Linked DNA regions of Homo sapiens: region 2 is linked to region 1. Evidence: fine-mapped expression QTL. A gene starts in region 1. The other region holds a variant in brackets. All regions are shown on one strand. Distances are between the middles of the regions.

Region 1 (4,381 bases):
TCCACTCAGATGGTTGGGGGGCTTAGAATTTTATTTTATTTTTATTTATTTATTTTGAGACGGAGTCTCACTCTGTCGCCCAGGCTGGAGTGCAGTGGCGCAATCTCCGCTCACTGCAAGCTCCGCCCTCTGGGTTCTTGCCATTCTCCTGCCTCAGCCTCCCGAGTAGCTGGGACTACAGGCGCCTGCCACCAAGCCCGGCTAATTTTTTTTGTATTTTTAGTAGAGACGGGGTTTCACCGTGTTCACCAGGATGGTCTCGATCTCCTGACCTGGTGATCCGCCCGCCTCGGCCTTCCAAAGTGCTGGGATTACAGGCATGAGCCACCGTGCCCAGCCTCTAGAATTTTATTTTTTGGCCAGGTTTGGTGACTCACACCTGTAATCCTAGCAATTTGGGAGGTTGAGGCAGGTGGATTGCTTGAGTTCATGGGTTTGAGACCAGCCTAGGCAACATGGCAAAACCCCAGCTCTACAAAAAATACAAAAATTAGCCAGGCGTGGTGGCACATGCCTGTGGTACCAGCTACTCAGGGGCTGAGGTGGGAGGATCACTGGAGCCAGGGAAGTTGAGGCTGCAATGAGCCGAGCTGGAACCACTGCACTCCAGCCTGGGTAACAGAGCAAGACTCTGTCTCAATAAATAAATAAATAAATAAATAAGAATTTGGGGGCTGGGTGCGGTGGCTTGTGCCTGTGAGCCCAGCACTTTGGGGGGCTGAGGCGAGCAGATCACCTGAGGTCAGGTGTTCGAGACCAGCCTGGCCAACATGGCGAAAACCGGTTAATATAAAAATTATATTAACACGGTTAATATAAAAATTAACCGGCCACGGTGGCATGCACCTGTAGTTCCAGCGGGAGGCTGAGGCAGGAGAATTGCTTGAACCCAGGAGGCGGAGGTTGCAGTGAACCAAGATAGCATCACTGCACTCCAGCCTGGGTGACAGAGCGAGACTCCGTCTCAAGAAAAAAAAAAGAATTTTGGTTTTGGTTTACACCACTCAAAAGTGCAGGAATTCCAAAACAAGCCGGTCGGGGCACAGTAGAGCACAGACTCTGGCTCCTCCATCCGCCCGCACCCCACCCTGTGAAAGGAAAATAAATCTCAAAACCCCACAATCACTAAGTCAAAGGAAAAAGTCAAGCTGGGAACTGCTTCGGGCAAATCGGCCTCCCGTCTTATTCCTAAATAAGATAGTTACAAATACATATTTTTAAAGCTACACACCTCCCTCACAATTTGCCCACAAAGAAATTCTCTGTGGGCCTCAAGATCTTTACCCTAAAACAGTTCTGTTGAATTTCACCCTGGCAATGCAAATTGATAGCTTCCCTTCACAGGTGCGAGACAAAGGACTGAACTCAAAGCCATCCCTCTGCTCACCTAGACAAATGCATATCTGATCGCTTCCTTTGCTCTACTGTTTACGTAGAAATGAAGATTCAGTAAGCCAGACTAAAGCATAAGCGACTATTCCTCTACCCGCGTCTCACATGCATAATAAATTGTGCAGTCAGCGAAAGGCTGAACAAAGACTCAAAAGAATGCACCCTCCGGTCTCTTCTCTACCTGTGACCTGAAAGCCCTCTCCTGGAATTGTCCAGCCTTTCTGGGCTGAACCAAGGTACACTCGCACGTGTTGATTGATGTCTCACGTCTCCCCAAAATGTACAAAACCAAGCTGCATCCCAACTTCCCTGGGCACCATCGTCACGATCTCCTAGGGTTGTGACACTGGCGTGTCCTTAACCTTGGCAAAATAAACTTTTTACATTTCATTGAGTCCTGTCTCAGATATTTTTGGGTTCATAACCCCCACCCTCACCCCTACCCGCGGAGAGAGCGAGCCGCTCTCCAGCCCCTCCCCGGCTCTACGCAGGAGAGGCCACTCTCCTCTATGGCACGCGCGGCGGCACTCTAGCAGCCAGGTGGCTTCTCTATGGGCTTTTCCGGCACAGGTCGGAAGTGGCGCGCGCTGCCCCGGAAGCACCCTGGTGGGTGGGTGCCTGCCAGCAGCTGAGGCGCCATGGCGGCGGCAGCGGTGTCAGAGTCTTGGCCGGAGCTGGAGCTGGCTGAGCGCGAGCGGCGGCGGGAGCTGCTGCTGACGGGGCCCGGGCTGGAGGAGCGAGTGCGGGCGGCGGGTGGGCAGCTGCCGCCGCGGCTTTTCACCCTGCCGCTGCTGCACTACTTGGAAGTGAGCGGCTGCGGGAGCTTGCGCGCGCCGGGGCCTGGCCTGGCGCAGGGCCTGCCGCAGCTGCACAGCCTCGTGCTGCGGCGCAACGCGCTGGGGCCCGGCCTGAGCCCCGAGCTCGGGCCGCTGCCTGCCCTTCGGGTGCTCGACCTGTCGGGCAACGCGCTGGAGGCGCTGCCGCCGGGCCAAGGCCTGGGCCCCGCCGAGCCGCCGGGCCTTCCGCAGCTGCAGAGCCTCAACCTCAGCGGCAACCGGCTGCGCGAGCTGCCAGCCGACCTGGCGCGCTGCGCCCCGCGCCTGCAGAGCCTCAACCTCACCGGCAATTGCCTAGACTCCTTTCCCGCCGAGCTCTTTCGCCCCGGCGCGCTGCCCCTGCTCAGTGAACTGGCGGCTGCTGACAACTGCCTCCGAGAACTCAGCCCCGACATCGCCCACCTGGCCTCGCTCAAGGTCAGCGGGGGCTGCCCGGGCGGGGCGGGATGGGGCCTTGGAGTAGCCCTGGAGAAGGAACCCCTCTCGGGGCCGAGCAGTTCCTAGTGACGCCCCCTGGGGCACTGGGCCCAGGGAATTCCTACAAGGCTGAAAGGAGCCAGCTGCGGGGGGCATCACCCCTGGGAAGCAGATGCCGCCTTCCAACTCCCCCTTCTCCTGGCCACACCAACATACTAGGTGGCCTCTGAACTCCCCCGCATTCTGTTAACTGGACTTTTACACGTGGTACGCTATTTTGTAATTGTTAGCAAACCTGGCTTCTCCTGTAGATCGAGCGTAGAGACCTGTCTTTTTTGTATCTAGTACTTGTGAAGTGACTTGAGAGTGAGTCTGGTGGTGAAGGGGGCACCCTGGATTTTGCATAATGCCACATGCTGTGATCTTGAAGATTATATTTCACTTCATCCTAATAGCAGCTTTCCAAGGTAGGGGTGGTTATTCCTGTTTTACAGAAAGCCAAAGGGCCTGCCCAAAGTAAGCAGCAGGTAACTTGGGTTTTTCTCCAGACTATATTGTCCAGCGTCTGTTTACTAATTAATCTTGGATCCCCAGGCCCCGCGATAATGCTTGGCCTATAACAGGTGCCCATTGAATCTGTTGCCTAAAAGAAAGTAGGGAAGCCACATGGCAGAACCACGACCTAAACCCAGCCAGATGTTCTCTCCATCTTCTCTTTTGGTTTCATCCTTAAGGCAGTCCTGCATTTCTTCCCCCATTTTTCGTCTTTGAATTTATGCAGACATTTCTTTTTTTTTTTTTTTTTTTTGAGATGTAGTCTGGTCCTGTCACCCAGGCTGGAGTGCAGTGGCGCGATCTCGGCTCACTTCAACCTCCGCCTCCCGGGTTCAAGCGGTTCTTCTGCCTCAGCCTCCTGAGTAGCTGGGCTTACAGGCGCACACCACCACGCCCGGCTAACTTTTGTGTTTTTAGTAGAGACGGGTTTCACTGTGTTGGTCAGGCTGGTCTCGAACTCCTGACCTCATGTGATCCGCCTGTCTCGGCCTTCCAAAGTGCTAGGATTACAGGTGTGAGCCACCGCGCCTGGCCTATGTGGACATTTCTTAATAAAATACGTATACACTTTAGCAGCTTATCTATTTATTTGCTGTAGCAATTCCTCAAGACATTGCAACTCATTTTACAAGTAACATATCTATATAAGGATATATAGACAAACCCTGGCCGGGCGCGGTGGCTCACACCTGTAATCCCAGCACTTTGGGAAGCTGAGGCGGGCAGATCGCTTGAGGTCACACCACCAGCCTGGCCAACATGGTGAAACCCCATCTCTACAAAAATACAAAAATTAGCTGGGCCTGGTGGCGCGTGCCTGTAGTCCCAGCTACTCGGGAGGCTGAGGTGGGAGGATCACTTGAGCCCAGGAAGTGGAGGTTGCAGTGAGCTGTGATACCAGCCTGAACAGAGCGAGACCCTGTGGCAAAAAAAACAAACCCACTGTAGAGTGACACATGGTTACTGATGTAACTGCCCAATGGGTTCATTTTATCCACTACCCGGATAGAGCTGATTTATCAGGGCAGGAGGGTTGCAATAGAGAAAGTTTTACACATGTAGAGCCAGCTAAAGTGGAGACTGGAGTTTTACTGTTATTATTATTGTTGTTTGAGATGGAGTCTCGCTCTGTCTCCCAGGCTGGTGTGCAGTGGTGCAACCTTGGCTCACTGCAAGCTCCG
Region 2 (4,319 bases), 21 kb before region 1:
AAGACAACACTGCCTACATGCCGCCCCTTTTCTCCCCAGCCCCCTCTCCAGCCCCTGGCGACCATATGTCTAGTTTTGGTCTCCATGGATTTGCCTACTGTGGACATTTCCTGTAAATGGAATCAGACACTATGCGGCCTTTGTGTCTTTGACTTAACGTGTTTTCAAGGTTCGCCCGGGTTCTAATAGATCAGTAGCACTTCATTGCACGTTCAAGTCCTTGAACATACTAGGTATCTGCTTTAAAGTCCTTTTGTGCTAATTCTAACATCTGGAATTTTTCTGAATGTGAAGGGGGATAAACAGTGAAGTTTGACACCCTCCACACTGCTCAGAAGAAAGCTCCGAGTGGATCTGAGATTCAAATGTGAAAGGCCCAATTATGAATCTCTCAGGAGATGCTAGAGATAAGAGAATAGCCTTCAGAATAGGAAGGGATTTCTCAAACAGGACACAGAAAGCTTAAGCCTTGATGGAAGAGGCAGATCAATTCAATTAGATTAAAATGAAGAACCTTGGGGCAGAGTTTGGGTTTTGTAAAATGAAAAGAGTTCTGGAGTTAAGCATCGTGAACATGCTTAACACTACTGAACTGTACACTCATTTTATAATAAAACTATTAAATTGTAAAAGGTGAGAACCTCCTCTTCATCAAAGAACATAAATAGACTGAAAGACAATGCTGGGGATGAAAAATCATTGACCATTATTCTTCAAAGTGAGTGGAAGGCAATGTCCCTGCAGGGTTTGAGCGGAAGAGTGGGCATGGCCTGGCGGGCCCTATGCCAGCCAGTTTTGCTGCTCTGTTGAGAGCAGCCTGTGGGACAGAGAGGTCGGGTAGTAGCAGAGAGCTAAGTGGCGAGAAGTGGTCAGATTCTGGACACACACTGCAGGCAGACCCAGGACTTGGCCGGTGGAGTCCTCACAACATGGCAAGGAAGTAACTGCGGTCAGGAATCCAGGGCGCTCAGGAGCTTAGCCTGGAGCTGTGGAGTTAAAATCCCTGTCAGACGCGCAGGCCGGTAGACAGGTGGCTGCAGGTGGAAATGTGGGGTTTGTAAGCGTGTATAAGAAGTGGGTTTAAGGTCATGATACTGGGAGCACTCTTCTAAAGAGCAAGTGTAGACAGAGGAGAAGCCCCAGGCAGAGTGGGAGGAAGAAGGCAAACCAGGCGCTGGGGAAGAAATGCACTGGGGAGGAAGCCTGACGAGGGTGGCGTCCTGGAGGCCCCAGAGCACAGCCCATCAGAGAGGATGCCCTGCTGGCCTGGCTGGGTTCAGCTGATCGCAGCCGCCTGGCTCTTGCATCTGCACTTGGCCATAGGGCGGCCAGGCGGCTCTGCTGGCCCTGACTGGGCTCACACACGCGTGTGCCTGGGGTCCGCAGCCGGAGACTGATTGAGAATGGTCTTGGAGGCAGCTGCGGCACCTCAGCTTTGCTTTCTGTGTCTGAGCCCAGCACGCCAGCCTGGGCACGGCGTTCTCGCGACAGCAGCAGAGGGCAACAGCAAGACAAGCCCAGGCGCATGAGTTCATTTCAGCCTGCCCTGCCACGTGTCTGCCACTGTCCCATTGGCCAAAGCAAGCCACAGTCACCCAGATTCAAGGGATGGAGAGGGACCTGCCACCTCTGTGCTGGGGAGGGAGGAATTGGAGCCTTAGAGCAGGTCATGTCCCTCCACGGGGGAGGGGGAAGCAACTGCACCCCATGTGCCGGTGGGCCACATTCTGGTGAGAAGGCGCCCCAGCTTTAGGGACACGAAGGTTGCCAGTGGCCTGGAGAGACCAGAACCCAGGCCTGCCGGGAGCAGCTAAAGCGGGACAGGAGTGGGCTGGGCTGGGGCTGCAAGCGCTCTAGTATCTTGAGGGCTGCCGCAGGTGGCCAGAAACTGACAGCCACTGGTGAGAGTGAGAGAGGAACCAGGGAGAAGCAGGGCTGTGTCTGGTGGAGATACTGGTCCACCAGAGAATGGGAGAGCGGCTGGAGCAGTGTCCCTGGGAAGCGTTGTTTGTTTTTGAGATGGAGTCTCACCCTGTTGCCCGGGCTGGAGTGCACTGATGTGATCTCGGCTCACTGCAACCTCCGCCTCTCACGTTCAAGCAATTCTCCTGCCTCAGCCTCCTGAGTAGCTGGGATTAGCTGTTGGGGACACGAGATGCGCCACCACACCCAGCTAATTTTGTGTTTTTAGTAGAGACGGGGTTTCACCAAGCTGGCCAGGCTGGTCTCAAAATCCTGACCTCAGGTGATCCACCCACCTCTGCCTCCCAAAGTGTTGGGATTACAGGCGTGAGCCACCGCGCCCAGCCTCGTGAGTGTTGTTTAAATAGAAGGGAAGGAACCAGGAACAACTCGAATGTCCAGAAGACTCAGGGAACCAGCGATCCCGCGTTTATATCCAACAGGAGGACGAGATGAGCTCCCTGTCCCCATGCAGACGGTCCCACAGCTGGTCGTAAAGGAAAGAAGCTGGCTGCCCAGGCAGTCAGGCCTGCATAAGCCCCACATTCTGCAGGGCAAGTGCATGTGGCGTGGCTCAGGAAGAGCAGGGATGAAGAGAGTGGGAACCCCACGAGGAACCGTGGGCAGCAGGCTGGCGGGGAGCCCGCGGTGCCTGGCGCGTTCTGTCTTCTGGCCTGGAACGTAATCACGCGGGCGCTCTGCTTCTCACCCTTGCATTTGCGTGCACGCTCTGCTGTGCTCAGAGTCACTGACACCAAGGGCCCTGTGTGGCTGGGTGGGGATGCGAGATGCAGGCTT[G/C]CCTGGTGACAGGACTTCTTGCTTCCTGAGTTGTACCCTGCACAGACTGCAGAGGCTATCATAACATATCCGAAGGGAGGTGCCCAGGTGAGGGAGCCGTTCTTCTGCGGCTCTTGCTGGAGCGGCCGCCCTCGTTTTCAGCTTACACAGCGAGTCCTTTTGGGTCTCAGGTAGCGTGCCAGGTCCGTCTCGCCTGATTAACACTCTGTGTGCCTCCTCTGCTGCAGGCATGGAAAGCTCACCTGATGGGCCCAGCCGGCTGCACGATGAACCTGCGCAAGACACACATTCTGCAGAAGGCCCCGGCACTGCAGCCAGGTGAGGGACAGCGCCGCTGAGCAGGTGTAGTCTGCATCCCTCCATTTTGACTTATTCAAAAAAGCATCCCCGTCCAGGGCAACATGGCAAGACCCCATCCCTTTAAAAGCAAAATAAAGCATCCAAGCCTGTCTTCATGTTCTGGTTCCTTAGTAAGCAGGCTAATAATCAGAATCGTGTGACCAAAATCCTTCTCCACCTGCAAACTGGCTGTGCAGTGCGAAGGCTCCACGGGTGGCCTAGGATTCACACTCCCGTCCTCCGCTCTTTCTACATCACTGACTCAAGTGTTTAGAATCAGGAAGCTGGCCAGGCACAGTGGCTCACGCCTATAATCCCAGCACTTTGGGGGCTAAGGCAGGCAGATCACTTGAGGTCAGGAGTTCGAGATGAGCCTGGCCAACATGGTGAAACCCTATAAAAAATTGGCCGGGCACAGTGGCCGGCACCTATAGTCCAGCTACTCAGGAGGCTGAAGCAGGAGAATTGCTTGAACCCGGGAGGTGGAGGTTGTGGTGAGCCAATATTGCGCCACTGCCCTCCAGCCTGGGTGACAGAGTGAGACTCTGTCTCAACAAAAAAAAAAAAAATAGGAAGCTGAAGAGTAGACCCTACTAGGCTCAGCCCTGGCTCCTGTAGTCGGGTGACGGCCATCAGCATGGGCCTGGGACGTTGTTGCTGGGTGTCTGTGGCCACAGGTTCTGCACCTGGTCCGTGGGTAGGAGTGCCCCTCCTAATGCAGGTCCTGTGCTTGCTCTGCAGGGAAAAGCTCAGCTGTGGCCGCATCAGGCCCCTTGGGGTCAAAGGCCGGAAGCAAGATCCCCACCCCGAAGGGCGGACTGAGCAAGAGCTCCAGCAGGACGTACGCCAAGCGCTGACGCGGCGCTCGGGCTCCTTGGTCTCTGTGAGGGATGGAGCGGGTCTCCTGATTCTACACCATCTCTCCAGAACTCTCTGGCCTTGGTGGCCCCATGCTCTGGCTGCTGTCCCCAGCTCCCCGCCGTGCACGCCTCTTACGCGTCTGTGCCGTCAGCTCTCGTGCAAACGATATGGATGCAGCTAACCAAAGATCCTGCGTGCAGTGCCAGGACCTGGCCGCACTGTACATTAAGCCTTCAGGGCTGTCTCAGGCCTTCCTTAGAATCAGAGAAGGAAGCGTCCTGTTTGGAGAGAGCCAGAGAGCACCGCCGGGAGGCGCTCGCGCAAGGCCACGGTCAGCACAGGCACGGTCCCGCTTTCCT

Alleles and levels. Positions count from the first base shown, and alleles are read on the strand shown. Sizes are in standard deviations (SD) of each study's normalised expression.
For the expression in breast of the gene that starts at base 2,009 in region 1, allele G in region 2 goes with a higher level than allele C (small effect, 0.23 SD a copy in GTEx).

What was found. PIP is the estimated chance that this variant, and not a neighbour inherited with it, causes the effect.
Region 2: its variant is fine-mapped to the expression of LRRC47 in breast (GTEx, PIP 0.98).

Annotation. Positions count from the first base shown.
Region 1 is chr1:3,794,126-3,798,506 of GRCh38, reverse strand. It overlaps LRRC47 (leucine rich repeat containing 47), which reads left to right and starts at 2,009. Exons shown (of 7, transcript NM_020710.3): 1 at 2,009-2,645. The coding sequence starts at 2,031. RefSeq lists an enhancer at 1,828-2,122 and a silencer at 2,238-2,447.
Region 2 is chr1:3,815,039-3,819,357 of GRCh38, reverse strand. CEP104 (centrosomal protein 104) reads left to right here. Exons shown (of 22, transcript NM_014704.4): 21 at 2,988-3,078; 22 at 3,841-4,319. The coding sequence ends at 3,956. Among named protein-coding and RNA genes, the nearest start is that of LRRC47, 21 kb to the right of the region's middle. The variant G/C (reference allele first, on the strand shown) is at 2,761.